Linked DNA regions of Homo sapiens. The protein of the gene in region 3 purifies or fractionates together with the protein of the main gene of each other region. This does not show direct contact. Each region holds a gene or a part of one and is shown on either strand. Other genes may lie near its edges. The genes, in order: IGF2BP1, CNOT10, RC3H1, LARP1, CNOT9, CNOT2 and RBMX.

What was found.
Region 1: the proteins of RC3H1 (region 3) and IGF2BP1 purify together in Homo sapiens (affinity purification with mass spectrometry, with the first as the bait; 2 studies listed by BioGRID). This does not show direct contact.
Region 2: the proteins of RC3H1 (region 3) and CNOT10 purify together in Homo sapiens (affinity purification with mass spectrometry, with the first as the bait; 3 studies listed by BioGRID). This does not show direct contact.
Region 4: the proteins of RC3H1 (region 3) and LARP1 purify together in Homo sapiens (affinity purification with mass spectrometry, with the first as the bait; 3 studies listed by BioGRID). This does not show direct contact.
Region 5: the proteins of RC3H1 (region 3) and CNOT9 purify together in Homo sapiens (affinity purification with mass spectrometry, with the first as the bait; 4 studies listed by BioGRID). This does not show direct contact.
Region 6: the proteins of RC3H1 (region 3) and CNOT2 purify together in Homo sapiens (affinity purification with mass spectrometry, with the first as the bait; 3 studies listed by BioGRID). This does not show direct contact.
Region 7: the proteins of RC3H1 (region 3) and RBMX purify together in Homo sapiens (affinity purification with mass spectrometry, with the first as the bait; 2 studies listed by BioGRID). This does not show direct contact.

What each region holds. Positions count from the first base shown.
Region 1 is NC_000017.11:48,996,167-49,000,184, reverse strand, and holds the start of IGF2BP1 (insulin-like growth factor 2 mRNA-binding protein 1), read right to left. Parts: upstream 2,801-4,018; 5' UTR 2,440-2,800; coding exon 2,265-2,439; intron 1,077-2,264; coding exon 1,016-1,076; intron 917-1,015; exon of another isoform or gene 1-916. UniProt on the Homo sapiens protein: RNA-binding factor that recruits target transcripts to cytoplasmic protein-RNA complexes (mRNPs). This transcript 'caging' into mRNPs allows mRNA transport and transient storage.
Region 2 is NC_000003.12:32,765,188-32,768,687, reverse strand, and holds part of CNOT10 (CCR4-NOT transcription complex subunit 10), read right to left. Parts: intron 683-3,500; exon of another isoform or gene 542-682; intron 1-541. UniProt on the Homo sapiens protein: Component of the CCR4-NOT complex which is one of the major cellular mRNA deadenylases and is linked to various cellular processes including bulk mRNA degradation, miRNA-mediated repression, translational repression during translational initiation and general transcription regulation.
Region 3 is NC_000001.11:174,015,858-174,019,357, forward strand, and holds part of RC3H1 (roquin-1), read right to left. Parts: intron 1-3,500. UniProt on the Homo sapiens protein: Post-transcriptional repressor of mRNAs containing a conserved stem loop motif, called constitutive decay element (CDE), which is often located in the 3'-UTR, as in HMGXB3, ICOS, IER3, NFKBID, NFKBIZ, PPP1R10, TNF, TNFRSF4 and in many more mRNAs.
Region 4 is NC_000005.10:154,800,377-154,803,876, reverse strand, and holds part of LARP1 (la-related protein 1), read right to left. Parts: intron 1,871-3,500; coding exon 1,478-1,870; intron 588-1,477; coding exon 464-587; intron 338-463; coding exon 132-337; intron 1-131. UniProt on the Homo sapiens protein: RNA-binding protein that regulates the translation of specific target mRNA species downstream of the mTORC1 complex, in function of growth signals and nutrient availability.
Region 5 is NC_000002.12:218,578,839-218,582,338, forward strand, and holds part of CNOT9 (CCR4-NOT transcription complex subunit 9), read left to right. Parts: intron 1-1,722; coding exon 1,723-1,902; intron 1,903-2,171; exon of another isoform or gene 2,172-2,231; coding exon of another isoform or gene 2,232-2,276; intron 2,277-3,500. UniProt on the Homo sapiens protein: Component of the CCR4-NOT complex which is one of the major cellular mRNA deadenylases and is linked to various cellular processes including bulk mRNA degradation, miRNA-mediated repression, translational repression during translational initiation and general transcription regulation.
Region 6 is NC_000012.12:70,340,933-70,344,432, forward strand, and holds part of CNOT2 (CCR4-NOT transcription complex subunit 2), read left to right. Parts: intron 1-1,174; coding exon 1,175-1,236; intron 1,237-1,325; coding exon 1,326-1,375; intron 1,376-3,178; coding exon of another isoform or gene 3,179-3,195; coding exon 3,196-3,296; intron 3,297-3,500. UniProt on the Homo sapiens protein: Component of the CCR4-NOT complex which is one of the major cellular mRNA deadenylases and is linked to various cellular processes including bulk mRNA degradation, miRNA-mediated repression, translational repression during translational initiation and general transcription regulation.
Region 7 is NC_000023.11:136,875,344-136,877,725, reverse strand, and holds part of RBMX (RNA-binding motif protein, X chromosome), read left to right. Parts: intron 1-1,070; coding exon 1,071-1,223; intron 1,224-2,140; coding exon 2,141-2,255; intron 2,256-2,342; coding exon 2,343-2,382.

The DNA.
Region 1 (4,018 bases), on a different chromosome or scaffold from region 3:
TCCAGCTTGGGACATGAGAGCAAACTCTACACTGTCAACATGTTTAAAGTCTGATTTGAGAAAGTAGAAAGACTCTGCCCTTATACTTCCCAGCCAGAGTTCAAGGAAAGGTTTCAGAGTTCAATGCAAGATTTGAAATCCACCATGAATTCTCGGTAAGTATGATGGAGGTACCCCATTTTGCTGAAGAGAGAGGATAGAGGGTATTGGAACACACACGAACACACACACACACACACACACACACACACACACACACACCATTCATCCACGGAGTTCTAGACCCTCCAAAGAGCCCCAGCTCACAGCCTCAACACAAAGCTCTCACCCCAGATGGTCCCCTGGTAACAATGGGCTGAAGGAGTGGGGGTAGGGGGGCTCGAAAAGGATAGTACAGCCAAGGCATATTCTTTGGAAAATCCAGCTGGGGAGAGGGATGATGTGAGATATGAGGGATTGGGGGTGGGGGGTCCATGGAAAATAAAAAGTCTTTGCCTGTTGTAGAAATATAAATAAAGTACAAGCATAAGGGGATTCTTTGGGGGCCGGGAAACTCATTCCACATCGCTTCGGGAGAAGGGCAATCCACTTAAGAATTATGGTGTGGAAAGAGTGGGAAAAACAGAAAATGAGGCCTGCTACGAAGTTGCAGAAATCGCCATGAGTCTGAACTCTTCAAAGATTTTAAGGTTCCCCCACAAAAAACGGCCCCACGAGTTGAACAAACAAACTCCACAAGGTTTCTCCCCTATTGATTTTCTTTCCCCTTTAATTCTGCAAGTAACATCTTTTAGCCTACCCCAGCCCCAACTTATTTATTTTTTTTTTACAAGCTGTAAACCACCCATTACAAGATCTTGGCCAATCTTCCCTCCCTGCCCCCAACATCCGGAGTTGGGGGTGGGAAAGACCAGTAATGGGTTTCTTCCACTGGAGACGCTATGGACCCCTGAACACAGCTTCACAGCACACCCCCGCGGCCCCCCCACCCCCCCCGAAAAGAGCTCTTTCCTACCTTTGTTTTTTGGGCACCGAATGTTCAATCTCTAAGCGTTTTCCTTGTAATTCTACTTTCCCTAAAGATTAAAAAAAAAAAATTACCATGAGAGCTTGAACAGGGGTTGGGGGTGGGAAGAGGAAGGGGAAAAGACACTAGGATAATTCAGGAGTTACTGGGATTCGAGATCTTCCTAGGAATCCAGGCAGTGGCTTCCGCATCCAGATGGGAAAAAGGTTGCTCTAGGAATGGTGGAGTCTGTAAATTCGTTATTATTCATTTTTTAATTTTTGCTTTATTAAATCACTGAGGCTTGTTGAGTGGATCGCTCTGGAATCCCGATTTGGGAAAGGTGCGAGGCCATTTGTGTGGGTGCGCTGCCTACACAGCTCCCAGATGTGGGAAGGAGCCAGGAAAGAAAGGGCTCCCCGTTCCTCAGAAAGTGGGGCGCGGGGCGGGAGGCAGTGTGCAGAATGAAACTTTATTTTTCTCTGTTGGCCAGGAAGACGGGCTTTGGGCCACGGAGCGGTCACCTGTCGGGGCTGGTTTGGGAAGGGGTGGACCTGGGGGAGCGGAGCGGGGCCTGGCGGGGAGGGTCCCTCACTGCCACCGCGCGCGCCTCTCGGCCCAGCCTCGGCGTCTCGGGAAGCAGCATGGCGACCCGGCGCCGCCGCCGCCGCGCCACCCCGCTCACGCCCCACTTTCAAATCAAAATGGCTCAAGCCCCAGGCCCTGGGCGGGAGGCAAGACCCCCTTCCTTGCAAGTCCTGCTGGAGGGCTGCATTCCCCACGCGAAGCGGACAGATCGCAGGCGGTCCGGGTACCCCTTCCACGCCTGGAAAGGCCTAAGACTGAGGAACGGGAGCCGGGGTTTTCCAGCTGGGGGGGCGTCCACCGGCGGATAGGGAGGGGCTGGGCGTGGAAATAACGCCCAGCCAGGGGTCATCCCCGTGTCCCTAAATTCAACCCCCCACTACTGCCAGTGGGGGCTCCCGCCCCGTCGGTGGGGAGGAAGGATGGGGGAAGCCAGAGCTCCTTATCTCAGGCTGGGAGAAAGGGATGAGGAAATCCCGAATGTTTCTGCGCGGGGGTGGGAGGCGCAGAGCGAGGGAGGGGGCATCGAAGGGGGTAGGTCGAGGGTGGGTACGGAGGCCAAACCCCGCAGGCCCGGGAAGAGAGGAGTTGGCGGGAGAGGAACCGGAAGGTGCGGGTCTCCGTTGTTCGGGGCTCTCGTTGTGGCTTTTCCGGGAGGTGGCTGTGTTCTTACCGGAGAAAGTTTCGATGGCCTTCATCGCCCAGTGCTCGTCCGGGCAGTCCACGAAGGCGTAGCCGGATTTGACCAAGAACTGGCCGCTGTAGGAGATCTTGTGCTCCGCAAACACTTTCTCCAAGTCCGCGGGGGTCACGCTCTCGTTGAGGTTGCCGATGTAAAGCTTGTTCATGGTGGCGGTCTCGGGGCAGGACGCGGTCCCGGGCAAGGCCGAACGAGCGGGCGCGGGCGGCGAGCCTCCTAGGCCAAGAGGCGGAGAGGCCGGCGGCAGGAGCCGCAAACTTTCTTTGCACCCCACCCCAGAAGTTGTCCCGAGCCCAGGGCGGGGAAGGCGGCCTGAGGGCGCGCAGAGGTCGCGGGAGAGTTCGGGGAGAGCCCAGGAGAAGTGCCCGCGGCGCGCAGGGAGACGGACGACACGGCGCAGCTTCTTCCCTTCGGTCCGAAACCCCTCCGAGAGGGCTGGTGTGTCACGTTTCTCCGCGGCCGCCCTGGCGCCGCCTCTAAATAAAATCGACTTGAAAAAAAATGGAGCGGAAAAAAAAAAAAAAAAAAAAAGGAGAAGCCACGTGGTGACAGCCCCCACCCACCCTGCAGGGAAAGACCCCCGACGCCACAGGGCCCCTCGGCCCTCCGGCCAAACCCGATAATCTCCCGCCTGAGGGTGGGGAACTCAACTCACCCCCGGGGTAAACTGGGGCGGTGCGGCAGCGTCCCTGAAGCTCTACAGGCCCCTTCCCCCTTTGCAAGAACCTGGCCCCTAGGGAAGCGCCCCGCCCCCACCCATCCCCCTACCCCAGCCCAAACTGGGGGAGGATGGTCCAGCCCAGATCTCACATGTCTTAAAGGGTAAAATGTACGGTTATTTTTCATTCGTTTTGGGGGGCGGGGTTGCTCACCCCTCCCCGGTTAACTGCTAGCGACTGACAGGCGGGGGACGGCCGAGACAGACAAAGAGAAGCCGAAGACTCTGGGGTCTTCAGGAGAGGGTCGCACGAGCTGGTGATTTAAAAAGAAAGGAACCTTTTCCCTAGATGTTTAAATGGGGGGGGTCTCCGCCTTCCCCACGCCAGCCCCACGAAACTCCCCCGCCTCCGGGGATGCAGGACCGGGGGACCCTGCGAGCGCGGGACTGGAAAGCTGGGAACGGGGTATCCCAGTGGAGAACGAGGAAGCCGCAGGAAATAATGTTTTGAGATCCCCACGGGAGAAAGGGTGGTTCGCACCCGGGGTCCGGCTGTTAAATGATAACGTTTCGGGGTCCTGAGGGGAACACGCGGAACTGGCCGGAGATGACTCCAGGAGACAGGAACGGTGGGAGACAAGGAAGAGGAGTGATAGCTAGGGCTAACCGGAGCGAACTGAAGGGGGAGGTCTTAGGGAGGGAGTGACCGGGTGGAGATTTGAATGGTCCCCTTTTCCCTCCCAGAGTCGGGGACAGACAGGTGGAGTTTCCAGAGCCTGCACCACCCGGGACACTGCTGGCAGCTCTCTAGGCCCTAGGTTCGGGTCTCGGAACTTTGTTTGGGGTGCAGGATTCCGATCCTGGCGGGAAGGCGGGAGAGGGACGGAGGGCGGGGGGCTAAGCGGGAAGCCCCGCCCACGTCCCCAGGTCAGACCCGCGGGGGGAGGGGGTAATTTCCGCTCCGCGCACGGGGAAGCGAGGGGCGGGAGCTTAGGGGAGGGGGCGGCGGCCACTCCCCTCCTCCTCCCGCCGTTCCTGGGGAGGGGGAAGCGGATCCGCCTGGGTCCCT
Region 2 (3,500 bases), on a different chromosome or scaffold from region 3:
CAACTCTTTTCAGAAAATGAGATTTTATATATCTAAGCCTAGCTTTCTAGGCAAGCTGTATAGGCAAGATCGTCTTTATACCATTTTGTGGATTTTTTTTTTTTGAGACGGAGTTTTGCTCTTGTTGCCCAGGCTGGAGTGCAATTGCACGATCTAGGCTCACTGCAACCTCCGCCTCCTGGGTTCAAGCGATTCTTCTGCCTCAGCCTCCCAAGTAGCTGGGATTACAGGCTCCTGCCACCACGCCCAGCTAATTTCTTGTATTTTTAGTATAGACGGGGTTTCATCATGTTGTCCAGGCTAGTCTTGAACTCCTCACCTCAGATGATCCACCCGCCTTGGCCTCCCAAAGTGCTGGGATTACAGATGTGAGCCACTGTGCCCGGCCCATTTTGTGGATAGTAAAATCTCTGTTTTCCATCCAAGTGGCTAGTAACACATTTTATTTACTGTTTTTTTCAATGACCACAGTCTGAAGCTTTTTTTAAAATACAAGAATTCAAGGCAACATCTTTATGATACTTAATGGCATTTTGCTTACTGGCTGTTCAGAATGGTTAGTGGTGGGCAGGCAACCTTGGAAACATCTACTCGGAGCCCTTTCCAACTCTTCACATCACTGTTCTTCCCTCCCAGGCAGGGTGGGCCTCCCAATTAACAAAGGTCCAGCCATTGGATTAACCTAAAAACCAAGGGACCAAAACAAAACCCCCTTCAGACCCCAAACCAGGCCTGACCCCATCTGTCTCTCCCAGCGTGGCAGCAGCCATGGCCACCTGCTGTACGAGAACCTCAGCTGGACTGTACACACTGTAACTTTAGATCAAAAGCTCTGTTTGCTGCAGTGACTGAGGTCTGGGGGCACTTTGAGAGGGGCTGCTCAACACCCTAGCCTTGTTACTGAGAAGAGTGAAACATTTTAACTCTTACTGGTTTAACTCATACACTCAATGCCTAGATAATATCAAACATGTTACCCTGGACAGCCTGTCACTTAACTTTTCTGATCTGGGATCAGAAATGCTGACCAGATGCCACTAAGTTGACTAAATAGAATTTGTAGTTATTTTTCACATGGTAAAGCATCATCACTTCTAGGCACAACAAGGCTGCTCACATAAGCAGGAACCTATGTGAAAGCCACATAGGCTTTTTTTTTTTTTTTTTTGAGACAGAGTTTCGCTCTTGTTGCCCAGGCTGTAGTGCAATGGCGCGATCTCGGCTCACCACAACCTCCACCTCCTGCGTTCAAGCAATTATCCTGCCTCAGCCTCCCGAGTATCTGGGGTTACAGGCATGTGCTACCACGCCCAGCTACTTTTTGCATTTTTAGTAGAGATAGGATTTCTCCATGTTGGTAAGGCTGGTCTCGAACTCCTGACCTCAGGTGATCTGCCTGCCTCGGCCTCCCAAAGTGTTGGGATTACAGGTGTGAGCCACTGCGCCCGGCTGAAAGCCACCCTATCTCCTGAGAAGAGGTTTAATATCAACTTTAGTTGCTGTGGCAAGCATGTGGGGATGTGGGCCTTCTCATCTGCTGCTGGAGAATGTACCATTTGATACAAACTTTCTATATCAGAAGTCTTAAAATCCTGCATATCCTCTGACCATGCAATTCCCTTTTTAGGAAGGTGTCTCCTAACTGCAAAGGTCTACAAGCAAGGGCAAGATTGTAGTATGTCTGCTTATGTGCAGTCTTATTCCCATGGCTTAGCTCAGAAGTAAGTGCTCAACAGATATCTGCTGGATGAATGTCCTTTTGAGGAACTATTTCTAATTTTGTGAGATTCCTCTGGGGCTGCCAATGGTGGTACCCAGTCCCCTACTACAGGTATGGCTCAATGCCCATGATTGGTCCAGGGATTGGCAGGTGACCTACTAAAGAGATCCAATCAAAATCTTCCTTGAAGCTTCATGATGCACCATTTCAGTGGTAGAATTCAGAGGTTTATTTTAGTTATATATTGCCAGTAGCTTTCTTTAGTGTGTATGGAGTTTCTCTAGTATTGGCTTTCTGAAAGGTGGATTTATAATTCACTTTTTTTTTTTTTTTTTGAGACAGAGTCCCGCTCTGTTGCCCGGGCTGGAGTGCAGTGGCGCGATCTTGGCTCACTGCAAGCTCCACCTCCCGGGTTCATGCCATTCTCCTGCCTCAGCCGCCCGAGTAGCTGGGACTACAGGCACATGCCACCACGCCTGGCTAATTTTTTTGTATTTTTAGTAGAGACAGGGTTTCACCGTGTTAGCCAGGATGGTCTTGATCTCCTGACCTCATGATCCGCCCACCTCGGCCTCCCAAAGTGCTGGGATTACAGGCATGAGCCACCGTGCCTGGCCTATAATTCACATTTTGAAAAAAGATTTACACAATTCAAAATTTAAAAGCACCTGGGCACGGTGGCTCACACCTGTAATCCCAGCACTTTGGGAGGCTGAGGCGGGTGGATCACCTGAGGCCAGGAGTTCGAGACCAGCCTCAACATGGAGAAACCCCGTCTCTATTAAAAATACAAAATTAGCCGGGCGTGGTGGTACATGCCTGTAATCCCAGCTACTTGGGAGGCTGACGCAGGAGAAGTGTTTGAACCCGGGAGGCGGAGGTTGCAGTGAGCCGAGATTGCGCCATTGCACTCCAGTCTGGGCAACAAGAGCGAAACTCCGTCTCAAAAAAAAAAAAAAAAAAATTAAAAGCATAACAGTATACAGTGAAAAGTCTCCCATTCTACTGCTCCAGCCATGTAGTATTCGTCCTGCCACCCCAACAACTAATGTTTGCAGTTTCTTGGTGTGTCCTTTCAGAGATCTTTTATGCATGTATACAGGGTTATACAGAAACTGTTTCACACCTTGCTGTTTTCATTTAGTATGTCTTGGACATCTTTCCATTTTAGTACCTAGAGTTTATAGCTGCATTGTCTTCAACTGTACAGATGCACTATTATTTATATAAGTGATCTTTTAGACAGTTTTCCATCTTTTGGAATTTTAATAATTAAAACTGTCAACTTACTTCTTTTGTCTTTTTTTTTTGGGGGGACAGGGTCTCACTCCAGTTGCCCAGGCTGGAGTGCAGTGGCATGATCTTGGCTGACTACAGCCTCAACCTCCCAGGCTCAGGTAATCCTCCTACCTCTGTCTCCTAAGTATCTGGGACTACAGGAATGCACCACCATGCCTGGCTAATTTTTGGTATTTTTAGTAGAGACAGGGTCTCATTATGTTGCCCAGGCTGGTCTCAAACCCCTGGACTCAAGTGATCTGCCTGTCTCAGCCTCCCAGAGTGTGGGATTACAGATGTGAGCCACTGTGCCCGGCCCCAAGTTGCTTTTTATTCTGCTGATTTGAAATTTAAACATCTTTTTTTTTTTTTGAGACGGAGTCTCGCTCTGTTGCCCAGGCTGGAGTACAGTGGCACAATCTTGGCTCACTGCAACCTCCGCCTCCCGGATTCAAGCGATTCTCCTGCTTCAGCCTCCCGAGTAGCTGGGACTACAGGTGCG
Region 3 (3,500 bases):
TTTAAAGACATTATTTTTATTTTTGTATTTGTTGACACTATCTACTTCAAGATAAAAGTTCGGCCGGGTGCAGTGGCTCATGTCTGTAATCCCAGCACTCTGGAAGGCCGTGGCAGGTAGATCACCTGAGATCAGGAGTTCAAGACCAGCCTGGCTAACGTGGTGAAATCCCATCTCTACTGAAAATACAAAATTTGGCCGGGCATGGTGGCATGAGTCTGTGATCCCAGCTACTTGGGAGGCTGAGACACAAGAATTGCTTGAACCCAGGAGGCAGAGGTTGTAGTGAGCCGAGATCATGCCATTGCACTCCAGCCTGGGTGACAGAGCAAGACTCCGTCTCAAAAAAAAAGTTATTTTTATAATTTAAATGTATTAATTGAGTACATTAGCTTTCCACTAAATGTTAGTCTAAAAAATTAATGAGGCATATATAAAAACACAGAAACATGTATTTACAAAAAGTTGACATTTTCCTGAAAAAAATTACAGAAAACCAGAAATTTTACTGCAGAGTTCTAAATATTCTGACATAATCCTTTTCCTTATCATTTTTTAAGTTTCCTTTTTTTTTTTTTTTTTTTTGAGGTGGGGTTTCACTCTATTGCCCAGGCTGGTCTGGAACTCCTGGCTTCATGAGATCCTCCTGCCTTGGCCTCCTAAAGTGCTAGGATTACAGGCTTGAGCCACTGTACTCAACTTAAGTTGTTCTTATAACTAAATTATAATTATGTATATTAATAAAATTTTCCTTAAGGAGGGGAGATTAATAACAAAATTTTAAATTTTTTTTGTACTTAGATCTCCTATAACCCCATTAGAAATATTTACTAAGAACATAAAGTGACTTTTGTTTCTCATAAATTTTAAGATTTCAATTCAATTAGATAAAGTACCATTTTGAATTTAAGATAACAATATATTTCTAAAGCCCCAAATGGAAATGTCAATCTTAGCAGTAACTCTAAAGTCCAAGTTTATTACCCTTTATTCTAGAAAGAAAAAAAAAAACTAATTTTGTCTCCCTCAGTCAGCCAATTAAAACAATCCAAAAAAGCTTACTAAACAACTGCCTTTGTAACACTGTTCATGTTTTTAGAGGTGATCAGGTATAGGGCCAAGATCAAGGTTTCTAACACTTATTCAACAAGGGATTAAAAGCAGAGTGCCACGCAAATCAAAACTCTAAATATTCTCAAAGATTAGCTGAATAAAATAGTCATAAAGTTAGATTCACAGGGATCAAAGAGCTTCAAATTCTAAAAATCGTTTCCCAGTGTAACTTCAAATAAATCCTTTGTGAATATTCCTAGTTTCTTCTATACATTAAGAAAACCTAAAAGGCAAACAAGTTCTAGATAGGAGACCAAGTATTAGTTGTTCACATTTGTATAGAACATTAAATTTTAGTTCTTATAACCCAATGAAGAAATACAAATGAGTCTAAGAGTTTGAGCAAAACCCTCTGGGGTGATCAAAACAAAACTGCAAACTTCTATGAGTCTCAACTTTTCTTCCATAAAGAGTCCCTGGCAGCATGTCTACTGTACTTAGAGAAGCATGCAAAGAATTAGGTGGTTTTTTATTCCTAACAATCACATCCCAAAGTTTTTTCTGCAATTTCAATTGTACAGAGTACTCTTCCTCGATGTTGGCTCAAATTAGAGACAGAAAGCAGAATGGCGTTTGCTAGGGATTAGGGAAGAGGGGAATACAGAGTAACTGCTTAATGGGTACAGTGTTTCCTTTTGGGGTAATGAACACATTCTGGAATTAGAGCTGGTGGTTGAACAACATTGTGAATGTATAAAGTGCCACCTAAACTGTTTACTTTAAAATGGTTAATGTTATGTGACTTAACCTCAATAAAAAAAATTATGTTAATCTGTAGATAAAACTGACCCCTTTAGAACTCTTTTCTTGCTCAAAAAAAAAAAAAAAAAAAAAAAAAAACTGCTACCATGTTCAAATGCTATTTAGATCTTGGAAATTTTTTAGATAAAATGCACTTATAAGTTAAATTATTACCACATGTGCACAGTAATAATCAGTGAAGGTATACCAGTGTCAGTTTAAAACATTGTTATGCCTGTAATCTCAGCACTTTGGGAGGCAGAAGTGGGAGGATCACCTTGCTCCCAGGAGTTTGAGACCACCCTGGGCAACACAGCAAAATGCTATCTCTATAAAAATAATAAAAATTAAAAAAAGTAGCCAGGTAAGGCGGGAATAACACTTAAACCAAGGAGTTTGAGGCTGAAGTGAGCTATGATAATGCCACTGCACTCCAGCCTGGGTGACAGACCATGAGTGACTCTGTCATTCATTCATAATATATACATACAGCATTGCTAAAATGCTTGATAACTGTCAAAAGAATATTGCTCTGACATACATCTGCAAATAAGTAAGGTGACTTTAAATTTGAGGAAAATTCTTTCCCCAAGCCTCAATCAGGAAAACAATATAAACTAATAAGAAGTATCTAATAAACAAAAAGTAAACAAGAATATTATATAAGTAAACAGGCACAATCCTGACCAAAAATGGACAGAAATAAATATGCTAAAGTTAAGTGTCTGGGGGATGTAGGGCAACATTACTTCAGATTGGTAAATGTCACACTTCAAAAATAGAAGGAATCTACCTTAAGAAACTCTGTAGTAAGAAAACCTCCTTTGTATAAATGCCTGACAAAATTAATCTTTTATCATAACCTCTAAAGCTAGTCCAAATCCAGCCTAGATTCCAGAATTACACAAAAGAAAAAATCTTGGAGACGGTTCTGGGAAAAGGCTGACCAAAATCTGTGACTGTTTTGATACAGGCCAATCTGAGAATTTTAATCCCTCTGAACCCAATCCTGCAGAATACCTGAACCCTGAGCACAGACGGGGCCAAAGCTAAACCAGGTCAGAATACCCTGCCAAGGAACATCCTGATCTGAGGTGTTCACCAAACAGGGATCATTTATCAGTTTATTCTTCACTTTGTTGGATGCTGACCATTTTCAAGATATATGCAAGAGTGGACTGATTAGACCCATCAGAATCCATTTCAAGCCCTAAGATCTGGAGATGAAAAATACTGCAGAATTCTAAATTATCTATGGCTTAAAGAAAAAAAATTATAAATTAAGAACTTCAAATATTAGCTGACCCAACTTTAACATCATTGAATATCTTTAATTATTTAAAAAAATTTATAAAGTATTTCAAAGGCACAATTTAGTAATTGCCTATGTAACAAATTAACCATGAAAACAATTACAGCAGTATGATAAATCTGTCCTATGTAAACAGTATGAGTTTTTATATTTTATAGCATTCAGATATGCTAAAAACAAAAATTTAAGTGTTTCTTTTGTGATTCACATGAACAAATACTTTCTTGGTCTTACAAGTAGATATCTGACAGGATACAAATAATGATAATAGGGTAAGTTCACAGGCAAAAAAAGGAATCTGTCAACACAGAAGATGCTTCAAAGTTTAACTGTG
Region 4 (3,500 bases), on a different chromosome or scaffold from region 3:
AGCCTCAGAACACAGAGCAGGTGAAGGATTTAGCACTTCCTTAGCTCAGACAAGGCAAGGGAGAGAAGCAAAGCACTGGAATGCAATGAAGTAGACCCAAGACTCTGAGCAGCCCGACAGGAATGCCTCACCTTGGCATCCAGTGTCCGTCCTTCTTTCACCACTGGGTAAAACCGTGATGTCTGGCTTGAGTCTTTGAGCTGTGGTGTCCGGGGAGTGCGAGGGGTCCTGGTGTTGCGGTAGTTTGGTGACTCTGGGACAGTGGTTGGTAGAGAGCGGGCGATGGTGGAGGGCTCAGGAGCACCAAACAACTTGTTGGCCAGGGCATCCGTAGGAACTGCAGAGGCAGAGAGAGGAGTCAGGAAGCAGGGAAAGGCCTGTGGCATCCACCCCAGGATAGCCCCCAGTCCAAGGGCCCTAGATCCTCTCACCCATGTCAGGATCTCAGGTGTCTGCTTCTCACCTTGCTGGAACCGAGGTGGCCCAGGAGGAACTTCCTGGTTGGGATCCACAGGGGGCTCAGGGGTCAGTGTGTCAAACTGCTCCCGGCTGATCATATTGACCTTTTTGAAGTTCTCGACTTCTTGCTGCAGAGGTCATGAGATGAGTGGGGAAAGATGTAAGTAAGCAGGCTGCTCTAGCCTGTTTAAGGAATCAAGACTGGCAGGAAGTTGGAGAGGGCAGCTCCCACGTCGACATACGTGGAATTCTGGTCCCCAGGCTCTCAGCTGCCCAGTCACCATTCCTCACCCCAGTTACCTTGGCACAAGTGTGCTAGCCCAGAAGAAGACAGTGCTTGCCCTGCCCTCCCTGTAGTAAGACTGAGATCAGGCTGACAGTAGCTCCTCAGGAACTCACTACACACTCCCCCCTGAAAGCTCCAGTGTTTCCCCATCTCTCTTTCTGCTACTGCCTTATCACACAGTGGCTGGGCAACTCTCCTTCCTCCTTACTTCCAGGAAACACACTGCTACTTATTACAAAGGCTCACCCTAGGACAACCTACCACCAAACATACCCACTCTAAAATCCCACAACAGAGATGTTTTGACTATTTCCAGGCAGCAGCAATTTTTCAAAAGACTTATCTTTTCTCCATTTTCCATACTCAACACAAGCTTCTTAAAAGGCTTCTAAATTTTTAGATGCCTAAATATTTAAGACTAGAAATAACAATCTAACCCTTTTTCTGTTCCCCACAAAAGTGTCTAGCCAACTGTCAGAATATTAACTATGGATCCGCAGATAGGATAATAATCACCACCGCCTCACCTGAAGAGTTTGCAGTGTTTACACATCACCCCTCACTCCTAATGCCCAAGCTAGATGTCAGTCATCATCCCCTTCCCATATATAAAAATCCTGAGACTCTGAATTATAAGGACCTGCCTAAAATTGCACAGCTAATCAGGCTTCCTCTTCTCCGTACAATACAGGCACACCAGGCTCCACACTCACTGCTATGTCCAAGCCTCACCTTGATCTGGGAATACTCAGGTTCAAACTTTTCAGCCCACAGGTCCTGCTCATAGTAGAAGAGGCCATCATTAATGACCTTGGCCAGTTCGGCGCTCATCTTGGCACGCGAGGTGTGGTTGCCTGTGCGGTCCCCCCCTGGGTGCCGGCGCATGTAATGTGGTGTCTGGGTGACAATGAGGATCTTGTTGACATCCCTGTCATCAATCTCATAGTCAGATTCCTCATCAGACCAGGCAGTGAAGGTGTTCTTCCGCCCATCCATCTGCTCCATCTCCTCGTCAAACAGAAAATCCAGTTCCTCTTGCTCATCCTGATCCTTGGACATCAGCTGCTGGGAAGGCAGCTGCTGAGGCAGAGAGGTCAGGTGGGAAAATCTGGACTCCTCTGACTTCTAAAATAGGACAGACGAAGGGGAAAAGGAATCACCAGAGATCCTTGGCCCAGATTCTGTAGCTATACCATGAGAGGGAAGCTCCAGCCTCTCAACATAAGACTGTTCAACTATGACCCTGGTAACACCAGCAGGTCACAAGCGTCATCCTGGGAGTCAGCTTTATGACTATGAGAAAGGATGTTTCATAGAAGTCCAGGTTCCTCCACTCACAGCTCATATCACAGTCATGCACAAACAACTGATGATGACTTCTCTATAGGCAGGAACTGTGCTCTCATTTACCTTTATATCCTACATAGCACCTAGCTTAGGAGTGGACACACAGAAGTTCAGCAGGTTGATTCATCCACTTATCCATCTATTCAACATCTCCCAATAAACTGGAAGCTCCATGATCCACAGCTGCCTTGCTTTCCATTATATACTCAGTACCTAGACGGGGATCTGGTAATACCAGATGTTCAATTATATAATAAATGAGGGAGTACCCATTAGTCCTAAGCTCTGTATGAAAAACCTAAAAGCAGAATAAGACAAGGTCCCTGTTACTTAGGGAGCTCAATGGGAGAAAGTCAACCAAACAGCCAACTGCATTGTGGTATGGTAAAGGCTATAAGCAGGTTTGTGGATGCACACAGTTAAAGGAGCTTAGTCAACTGTGACTAAGAATGGTTACGGAAGGCCTCCTTCAAGAAGTGACTACCACAGGATGAACATAAGTAAGCCAGATGAAGATAGGGACAGACTAGGCAGAAAGAATACCATTGTTCCAAAGGCAAGAGAAAACACGGTGCCTTCAGCAAAGAAAAACTATTTGTTTTGATAGACTGAATATGAGACGCTGAGAGAGAAGCATTTGTCTAAACCCACAGTATTTATTCAAAAGTAGATTCCCTGCTGTGCCAAGAGCACATAAACTCTAAACCTATCTTTTTTTAAGGTTTAAGATAGACCAGGTCAGAGTAGGGGCTCTAATTCTGGAATGGGAGCTAAGTCTGACCCCTGTTTCAAACAAAACTTTGTAGGCCTGGACTTTGTAAAACCCTCATCTACTTACTACCTTTCTCCTCATGTCTCTGGCTGGATCTCCAACACTTTTTGAGGGCTGAAGCCACAACTGTGGGGAATTCTGTGTATGAACAGGCAGGCAAGAGAAAGGAGATGAGAGGTAATCACTGTGGGAAAATAGATAAGGGAGTATAGAATTCCATAGACCCAAAGTTCAAGGTCAATTCTGCAGTCTCCTCACAAGCCCCAGGCCAGAGGTCTCCAAAGTGGGTGACAGTGAGCAGGTATGTGGAGAAAAATTCAGCACTTAAAAAGGAAGTAGTAATTTTAGTTAGAGATTGCAATACTTCTTTAACAGTGAACTTCATCTGTTTATATATATAAACTATTTCTAGAATATTCTAATGTCTCCTTCCTTTCATCTGCAGATGGAGAAACTGAAGCCTTGAGGTATGAACAGGCTTCCCAAGGTCACCTTGCCATTAGTGCAGCAGACTTGTGTAGACTAACTCCATATTTGGGCCATGCATCTGCTCCCTCTCCCTTCCTTCTTCTGAGGACCTAAGGGGCTTACATACATGATAGTGGGGACATACTCAGGGAAAAGACACCAAAAACG
Region 5 (3,500 bases), on a different chromosome or scaffold from region 3:
ACAAACATATTTGATGACTATAGAGAATTATAAAATATTCAAATTTGGGGGGAATATTGTGATTCTTTAGCATAATAATGAAAGCATGCCCTATTAAGTATGTATTTCCTACATGAGTAAGTAATGAATGGTTCTCAAAGGGATGTAGTTAGAGAATATACTGAAGAATCATTAAGAGGGAGAGCTTTTCCAAATTACAGGTTTTCTGCTCAGTTGAGGGGGGATGTCAGAATCACTGGGGAGGGACCAGTATTGGGAAGGCATAATTTTTTTTCCTCTCAAAAACTATTATATGCATATGGTTTTTTAAAAAAAGTTTATGCAAAAGGTTTTAGTGTAAACAATGAAAAGTAAGTCTCCCTGTAAATCCCCAACCTTAGAGGTAACTACAGTTAACAGTTCTTTATGTGTCCTTCTAGAAATGTTATATGTAAATGTGTAAGAATGTATATGTATTTTTTATTTTTATATGTGTGTATATTAATGGAAACATTTTATATGCTCTTCTGTAACCCTTTTATTGTTTTTACTTAGTATCAATATACAGTATATAGAGAGCTGCTTCTTTTTTTAAAGGACTACATAGTATCACATTATAAAGCTGCACCAATATTTAACCAGTCTCTTAGTGAGAGATACTTGTTTGTTTTCTGCATTTTTGTTTTTGAGACGGAGTCTCACACTGTCACCCAGGCTGGAGTGCAGTGGCGCGATCTCGGCTCACTGCAACCTCCGCCTCCTGGGTTCACACCATTCTCCTGCCTCAGCCTCCAGAGTAGCTGGGACTACAGGCGCCTGCCACCACGCCCAGCTAATTTTTTGTATTTTTAGTAGAGACACCAGTTTCACCGTGTTAGCCAGGATGGTCTCAATCTCCTGACTTCATGATCCACCTGCCTTGGCCTCCCAAAGTGCTGGGATTACAGGCATGAGCCACCACGCCTGGCCCAGTTTTCTGCATTTATTTATTTATTTATTTATTTGTTTGTTTGTTTATTGAGACAGAGTCTCACTCTGTCGCCCAAGCTGGAGTGCAATGGTGCAATCTCAGCTCACTATAACTTCCACCTCCCATGCTCAAGCGATTCTAGTGCCTCAGCCTCCTGAGTAGCTGGGACTACAGGCATGCACCACCACACCTGGCTTTTTTTTTTTTTTTTTGCTCTGTCGCCCAGGCTGGAGTGCAGTGGCGCTATCTCGGGTCACTGCAACCTCCACCTCCCAAGTTCAAGCAATTCTCCTGTCTCAGCCTCCTGAGTAGCTGGGATTACAGGCGCCCATCACCACACCCAGCTAAATTTTGTATTTTTAGTAGAGACGGGGTTTCGCCATGTTGGCCAGGCTGGTCTCAAACTCCTGACCTCAAGTGACCCACCCAACATGGCCTCCCACAGCGCTGGGATTACAGGGGTGTGCCACCGCGCCCGGCCACTTTTCTGCTTTTAAAACAGTGCAACAGTAAACATCCTGGTATGTCTTTAGCACAGCCCAATTATACCTACAGGATAAATTCCTAAACATGGAATTATCAAAGGGTATGTGTGCATTTTAGATTTTCATCAGTAACTACCAAAGAGATTGAATAGTTGACATCAAATGTATGTATTTAGAAACGCTCCCCTGGTATTCATGAAAAATATATTTCCTCTAAAACTCTGTTGCAGGGTAAGACTTGGTTTGACTCTAATAAACTGATATTTACTTTCTTGTCTTCATCTGAAGCCTGTGCCTACTACACTGGCACAAGTGGATAGAGAAAAGATCTATCAGTGGATCAATGAGCTGTCCAGTCCTGAGACTAGGGAAAATGCTTTGCTGGAGCTAAGTAAGAAGCGAGAATCTGTTCCTGACCTTGCACCCATGCTGTGGCATTCATTTGGTACTATTGCAGCACTTTTACAGGTGGGTTCATGTCCATGATTGGCAGTTCAGTTCTTTTCATTACACTTGTATATTTCTTTACCTTTGCCCAAATGATTTGAAGACTTTAGGAGGATGATTCTTTAAAAAACTGCATTTGTAAGAATCTGTTTTAGAAAGGTCTGAGGTATTTGTTAAAATGCAGATTCTTGGATCCTTACCCAAGAGATTCAATTTAGTCAGTCTGAGGTGGGCCCTATAATCTATATTTTAATAAGCACTTTCACCTCCCCCAGGTGATTGTGATGCAAGTGATCTAAGAACTACGCTTTGACGAACACCGCTTTAGGAGTACTGTAAGATAAATCTACATGACAGGGGGAGGAAGGTGGAAAGTAGAGTATAAGGACCACAAGGTACAATATATTCTATGGAAAAGAAATGGGTTTTTGGGTTTTTTTGTTTGTTTTTCTTTTTTTTTTTTTTTTGAGACGGAATCTCGCTCTGTCGCCCAGACTAGAGTGCAATGGTGCAATCCCGGCTCACTGCAACCTCTGCCTCCCGGGTTGAAGTGGTTCTCCTGCCTCAGCCTCCTGAGTAGCTGGGATTATAGGCCTGCATCACCATGCCTGGCTTTTTTTTTTTTAATTTTTAGTAGATACGGAGTTTCACCATGTTGGTCAGGCTGATCTTGAACTCCTGACCTCGTGATCCACCCACCTTGGCCTCCCAAAATGTTGAGATTACAGGCATGAGCCACCATGCCTGGCCTGGAAAGGAAATGTTGAAGGTATAACAGCTGTAGTATTAAAGGTGGGTACACTTGTACATTAAAGAATAGATAACTGAAGTTCAGTTCAAACCAGAATGGTCACTGGTGGCTAATTAACTGATATGGTACAATAACAATACCAAAATACCTAGGTAGTGGCATGATCATCCATTAAAGTATTGCCCCAAATTCCTAACAATTAGATTAACTTTTCAACTCTTAAGTAAATTCACATTCCATCTCTATTGCATTTAGCCAAGAAACTGATCTTTGTTATGGGAACGTTTTTCTATGTAAAAGTTTTACAAATAATGTAAATGGAAAATTGTAGCCAGGTGCAGTGGGTCATGCTTGTAATCCCAGCAGTTTGGCAGACTGAGTTAGGAGGATTGCTTGAGCCCAGGAGTTTGAGACCAACCTGGGCAACATGGCGAAACACCATTTCTACAAAAAATACAAAAATTAGCCAGGCTTGGTGGTACACTCCTGTAATCCCAGCTACTTGGGAAGCTGAAGTAGGAGGATCAATTGAGCCCAGGAGGTGGAGGCTGCAGTGAGCCATGATCATGCCACTGCACTCTGCCTGGATGACAGAGTGAGACCCTGTCTCAAAAAAAAAGAAAAAAAATGTAAATGGAATTGTATTGAGTAAATCATTACTTTTTGACAGATAGTGCATATATTCACTGCTGTTTATACATATCCCCACCCATTGATTCATGTCCTTACCATGTTACTACCTAACCAAATTCAAACTTCTTTATGAGTCACCGTGGTTGACTTAACACTTTCTGGCCAGTGATCTCATCACTGTAACTTAAAGCAGGATGCTAGCAAAATTATAAAAATTTGAGTATCCCTCAACTGA
Region 6 (3,500 bases), on a different chromosome or scaffold from region 3:
TCGCCCAGGCTGGAGTGCAGTGATGCAATCTCGGGTCATTACAACCTCCACCTCCCAGGTCCAAGCGATTCTCCTGAGTAGCTGGGATTGCAGGCATGTGCCACCATGCCCAGCTAATTTTTGTATTTTTAGTAGAGACGGGATTTCACCATGTTGGCCAGGCTGGTCTCTTAACTCCTCACTTTTCAAGTGGTCTGCCCACCTTGGCCTTCCAGAGTATTGGAATTATAGGTGTGAGCCACCGCGCTTGACCAGAAACCCCAAATCTTCACAGGCCTGCAAGGTCTTACATGATTATTGTTTGTCCCCTAACCCCACCTCAACAGCTTTTCCCTTTGTTCACTGTATTCCAGCTTCACTGGCCACCTTGTTATATCTCAGGCATGTCAGTCATGTCCCTGCCTTAGTTGCTCTAGGAGTTCCCTCAGACTAGAAGAGTCTTCTGCCAGATAATTAATATGACTATGTCCCTTATAGCCTTCAAATCTTCAGATCTGACCACCTTAATGAAACCTAACTGACCACCCTATTTAATAATTATGCATCCAGTCTCCCCTCCCAGTTCCCCTCTAACATGGGCCATTGTTTATTTATTTATTCTGTTAATTGATTTTGTCTGTCCCCCTCCAATCCACCATCCTCAACCAGAAAGTAAGTTTCATGTTGTCAGTGATCTTGTTTTGCTCACTGATGTGTCGTAAGCTCCTAGAACAGTGCCAGGCATATAATAGGCACTCAGTAAATATTTGATGAATTTAAACTTTTGCAAATAGTTACTCAGTTTTCTTCTTGCCACACAAATAAATGGGAAATTTATTTAAAATTTATTTAAAATTTAATTTATATTGGGAGCATGGTATTGAAGAATTTAAAGCATCTTGAGTTGAAATCAAGTAAAAGTAGAAAATTTTTAATCATGTTTTGTATATTGTGATATGTTGTGTTATTTATACTGTATTGCAAGAATACTGAGGGAAGGAGTCCTATCATATTTTACAGACACACACACAAACACACACAGTCTTCATTTGCTTCTGTATAAGTCAGTAAACCCAAGTAAGGGAATTAGAAGTAAAGATGGTCATTTTACAGTTGGAGTCTTTGTTTTTCCTGAAATAAAATTAGAAATCTCTTTTTCTGGATTTCAAAATGTTTTCTTTTCCTCCTTATTCAGAAATCTCTACCCCAAATTTGCGTCACCCTGGGCATCTTCACCTTGTCGACCTCAAGACATAGGTAGGAGAATCTATTTGTGTTTAGACCTTTTAAAAAGAAATTTACAATTGAGAATCAGTTAATAAGGCTTTTTTCATTTTATTATCCAGACTTCCATGTTCCATCTGAGTACTTAACGAACATTCACATTAGGGATAAGGTGAGTGTAGTTTATTATTCTACTCAGTCAGCATGAATTTATCTATTTTTCACATGTTTTTCAGTTCAGGCAGCATACTATTTTTGAAATAATTAGTAATGGTCTCAGGGATATGCTTTCATATGTCCATGTTAACTTGTTAAATGGTAAATGTTAGGACTGGTAAAAAATAAAAATTCTTACATTTAACAACAGGTTACAACCATAACCGCAGTTGATGAGAATAAACTAGATTGGAACATTTGATAAATATCCTTCTGATAATCTTATTTTATGACCTTACCAGTAAAAAGATTTTCGTTACAAGTATTACAGATACAGTGTTTTTAATGAGATGGTCTGTATCTTTAAAAACTATTTATGACCTTTGACTTTTCTCTGTATTTTTTCATTTCCATTTTTTTAAATCACCTAAAATTCTAATTCTAAAGTAGTTATTAACAACAGATTACAGCTTAATCTCTCTTTTTTCAATCTAAGAAAGAAAATGGTGGCACTTTTTGCTTTAGAAGAACTGAGAGTTTGTTTCTATTACCAAAAAATATTCACAATGGTACCTAAATTTTAGCCTTGGGAAACTACAATTTAGTGAAAAAATATATTTTTGTTATATATTTGTGTATAAATATCTATGTGTATGTGTATATATACAACAGCATTCTGAGTGTGCCTTACAGTTCTGTGGTCAAGTGGATGTTGATGTGGACAGGCAAGTAAAGGGATACCTTTCTCAATGTCTTCTAATACTTGAGTAGATAAAAGGCAAGAAATACAAGATGGAGAGGTCTCCTATTTTCTATTTGCGGATTGTGTGATTTGCTCCCACCACCACTGTAGAGCTCTTTCGCTCCAATTACCAAAGTGTTCCAGAACCTTTTCTTATTACCAATTTGAGAAATACTAATTTAGGAGAATTTGTCACATTGGGGCTGCTGCCTGAATAGGGATAACATGAATGGAGAGAAAAATTACATTCAGAGAATGTGTAATAACCAAATAAGTATTTCGATATAGGATCAAATAACGAGATAAAAATGTTGTTTTGGGACACTTTTAAGGTTTATTTAAATGTGAAAATTTGAGACTATTGAACCTATGTTTTACAGTTTGGTAAGCAGTTATGTTTCTACCTTGGGGAGAGAAATGTAAAGCAATCATCTTTCAGACATCTATTTAAACAAACTGAAAAGCCATTTCTTTATGATTTTTGTATTCATCATCTGTGATTTGCTGAAAGCATACAACTGACTTGTGAATCATTCACTGTCAGATATAGATTCAGTTTAACATTTTTTATAAGCCGTCTATATATTTGGCACTCTACAAGGTGCTTTCATATACCTTCACTCATTTTATTTACTTTCTTAGTAACCCTCATAGGTGTCATTGTCCACATTTGACAAGTAAAGCTAAGAGATTTTAAATAACTAGGACACAGTCATATTAATGAGTAATAAAACCAGGACTTGAATACAAGTCCTAGATCTCTGAGCACAATGCTATTGTTAGGTTCTTTTCCCCATTGGGTATTAAATCCTTTTAGTGGATCTTGCTTGGAAGTCTTTATTGAGCTTTTCTTCCAGTCAGCATATCAATTAGATGTATCAGAAATAATTGTTTAAATGACTTCAGTCATTTAAATGAGGAAATTCCCTTTTAGAATCTTAACTACCTATCTGTGTAATCATGTAATAACAGTTATCTACTACAAAGTGGGGAGTTTCTGTTTATCTCTCCATTTTTTCTTTAGTAGTAGCAACTATATATTAGGATTTGCAGATTTGTTTTATATTTCAGAATAAGTTATTTTTCTTTTTCAGCTGGCTGCAATAAAACTTGGCCGATATGGTGAAGACCTTCTCTTCTATCTCTATTACATGAATGGAGGAGACGTATTACAACTTTTAGCTGCAGTGGAGCTGTATGTTCAAAGTATTTTAATCACTTTTGTATTATAGTGGATCTTGACTATGCTGAAAACATCTTTAAGTGATGATGGCTATCTTTAAATGGAACTATTTCTCCATCAAGAAATTTATTTTTACATTATTAAAGTGAATTTAATTTAGATTAAAACCGTATCTTAACCATGGCTTCATAATCTATATACCTAAAAAGAATTTCA
Region 7 (2,382 bases), on a different chromosome or scaffold from region 3:
GGACAGTGTTACTTCTTGTCCAAGTAGTTCACTCTGTAGGAAAGGCATTTAAAAATTGATAGGCCAGGGTGTTGGACATGAAAATGAAATCATTTTTATTTTTTAAAGTTAGCTGGGCGTGGTGGCAGGTGCCTGTAATCCCAGCTACTACGGAGGCTGAGGCAGAAGAATCACTTGAACTTGGGAGGCAGAGGTTGCAGTGAGTTGAGATCGTGCCACTGTACTCCAGCCTGGGGGAACAGCGAGACTCCCTCTCAAAAAAAAAAAAAAAAAGTTTTTTAAGACTACCTTCAGTTCTTATTTCCCCAGTTTCTATGACTGCAGTGCATGCTCCATCAAGTACAAGTGAAACTAGACTACCCAAATCAATAATGGTTTTTTTTTGGGGGGGGGGGGGTAGAGTTTAGCACTTGTTGCCCAGGCTGAAGTGCAGTGGCACGATCTTGGCTCACCACAACCTCTGCCTTCCAGGTTCAGGCGATTGTCCTGCCTCAGCCTCCCAAGTAGCTGGGATTACGGGCATGCACCACCACACCTGGATTTTTGTATTTTTAGTAGAGACAGGATTTTACCGTGTTAGACTGGTCTTGAACTCCTGACCTCAGGTGATCCGCCCGCCTTGGCCTCCCAAAGTGCTGGGATTACAGGCGTGAGCCATTGTGCCCGGCCCAATAATGGTCATATTCTTGATGAAGCAAAGAAAACTTTTATAGTGGCCGAGCCTGGTGGCTCACACCTGCAATCCCAGCACTTTGGGAGGCTGAGGCAGGCGGATCACAAGGTCAGGAGTTCGAGACCAGCCTGGCCAGCATGGTGAAATCCTGTCTCTACTTAAAAAAAACCACCAAAAATTAGCTGGGTGTGGTGGCGCACACCTGTAATCCCAGCTACTCGGGAGGCTGAGGCAGGAGAATTGCTTGAACCCAGGAGGCAGAGGTTGCAGTGAGCCGAGATGAAGCCACTGCACTCCAGCCTGGGCGACAGTGAGACTCTCAAAAAAAAAAAAAAACTTTTATATCTTTCTTGATTCTTGTGAGTAGTAATATTTTTCTTTTCTATTTTTGATGCAGATGACGGTGGATATTCCATGAATTTTAACATGAGTTCTTCCAGGGGACCACTCCCAGTAAAAAGAGGACCACCACCAAGAAGTGGGGGTCCTCCTCCTAAGAGATCTGCACCTTCAGGACCAGTTCGCAGTAGCAGTGGAATGGGAGGAAGAGGTAAATGTTCCATGTATGATGATTTATGCTACTACCGTAACACAAAGAATTGAGAGGTGAATGATGCTTAAAATTTTAATTGGCCAGGCGTGGTGGCTCACGCCCGTAATCCTAGCACTTTGGGAGGCCGCGGCAGACGGATCACGGTGTCAAGAGATCAAGACCATCCTGGCCAATGTGGTGAAACCCCGTCTCTACTAAAAAATACAAAAATTAGCTGAGTGTAGGGCGGGTTCCTGTAATCCCCGCTACTTGGGAGGCCGAGGCAGGAGAATTGTTTGAACCTGGGAGGCAGAGGTTGCAGGGAACCGAGATCATGCCACTGTCCTCCAGCGTGGCAACAGAGTGAGATTCTGTCTCCAAAAAAAAAAAAAAAACAAAAAAAAAAAACTTTATTCATGGAGTCTGGGTGCGGTGGCTCACGCCTGTAATCTTGACACTTTGGGAGGCTGAGGTGGGCAGATCATGAGGCCCGGAGTTCGAGGCCAGTCTGGCCAACGTGGTGAAACCCTGTCTCTACTAAAGATACAAAAGTTAGCTGGGCGTGGTGGTGGGCACCTGTAATCCCAGCTACTCGGGAGGCTGAGGCAGGAGAATCACTTGAACCCAGAAGGCAGAGGTTGCAGTGAGCCAAGATTGCGCGACTGCACTCCAGCCTGGGTGACAGAGCGAGACTCCCATCTCAAAAAAAAAAAACAAAACTTTTAGTCATGTGTTCTAGGTGATTAGATAAATGGAATTAGCACTGAAAAAAATTTAAAATATGAATGGGAAATTGTAGAAAATAAAATTAGGTGATCTAGCCTCCGTAATGTCATCTTTGAAGTCAGTCTCATTATTTTTCATAGCCTGAATGTAAGTTCACGTTTTAACTTTTTTCTCTGGCTATGTTTAAAAAAATGATATTTTTCCTTAAGCTCCTGTATCACGTGGAAGAGATAGTTATGGAGGTCCACCTCGAAGGGAACCGCTGCCCTCTCGTAGAGATGTTTATTTGTCCCCAAGAGATGATGGGTATTCTACTAAAGACAGGTAATAGAAAAGTGCAGCTTTTTAAATTAATAATTAAGGTTGAAGGAAAGCTTATCAAAAGCATAAACCAAAACTTTTGCTTTGTAGCTATTCAAGCAGAGATTACCCAAGTTCTCGTGATACTAGA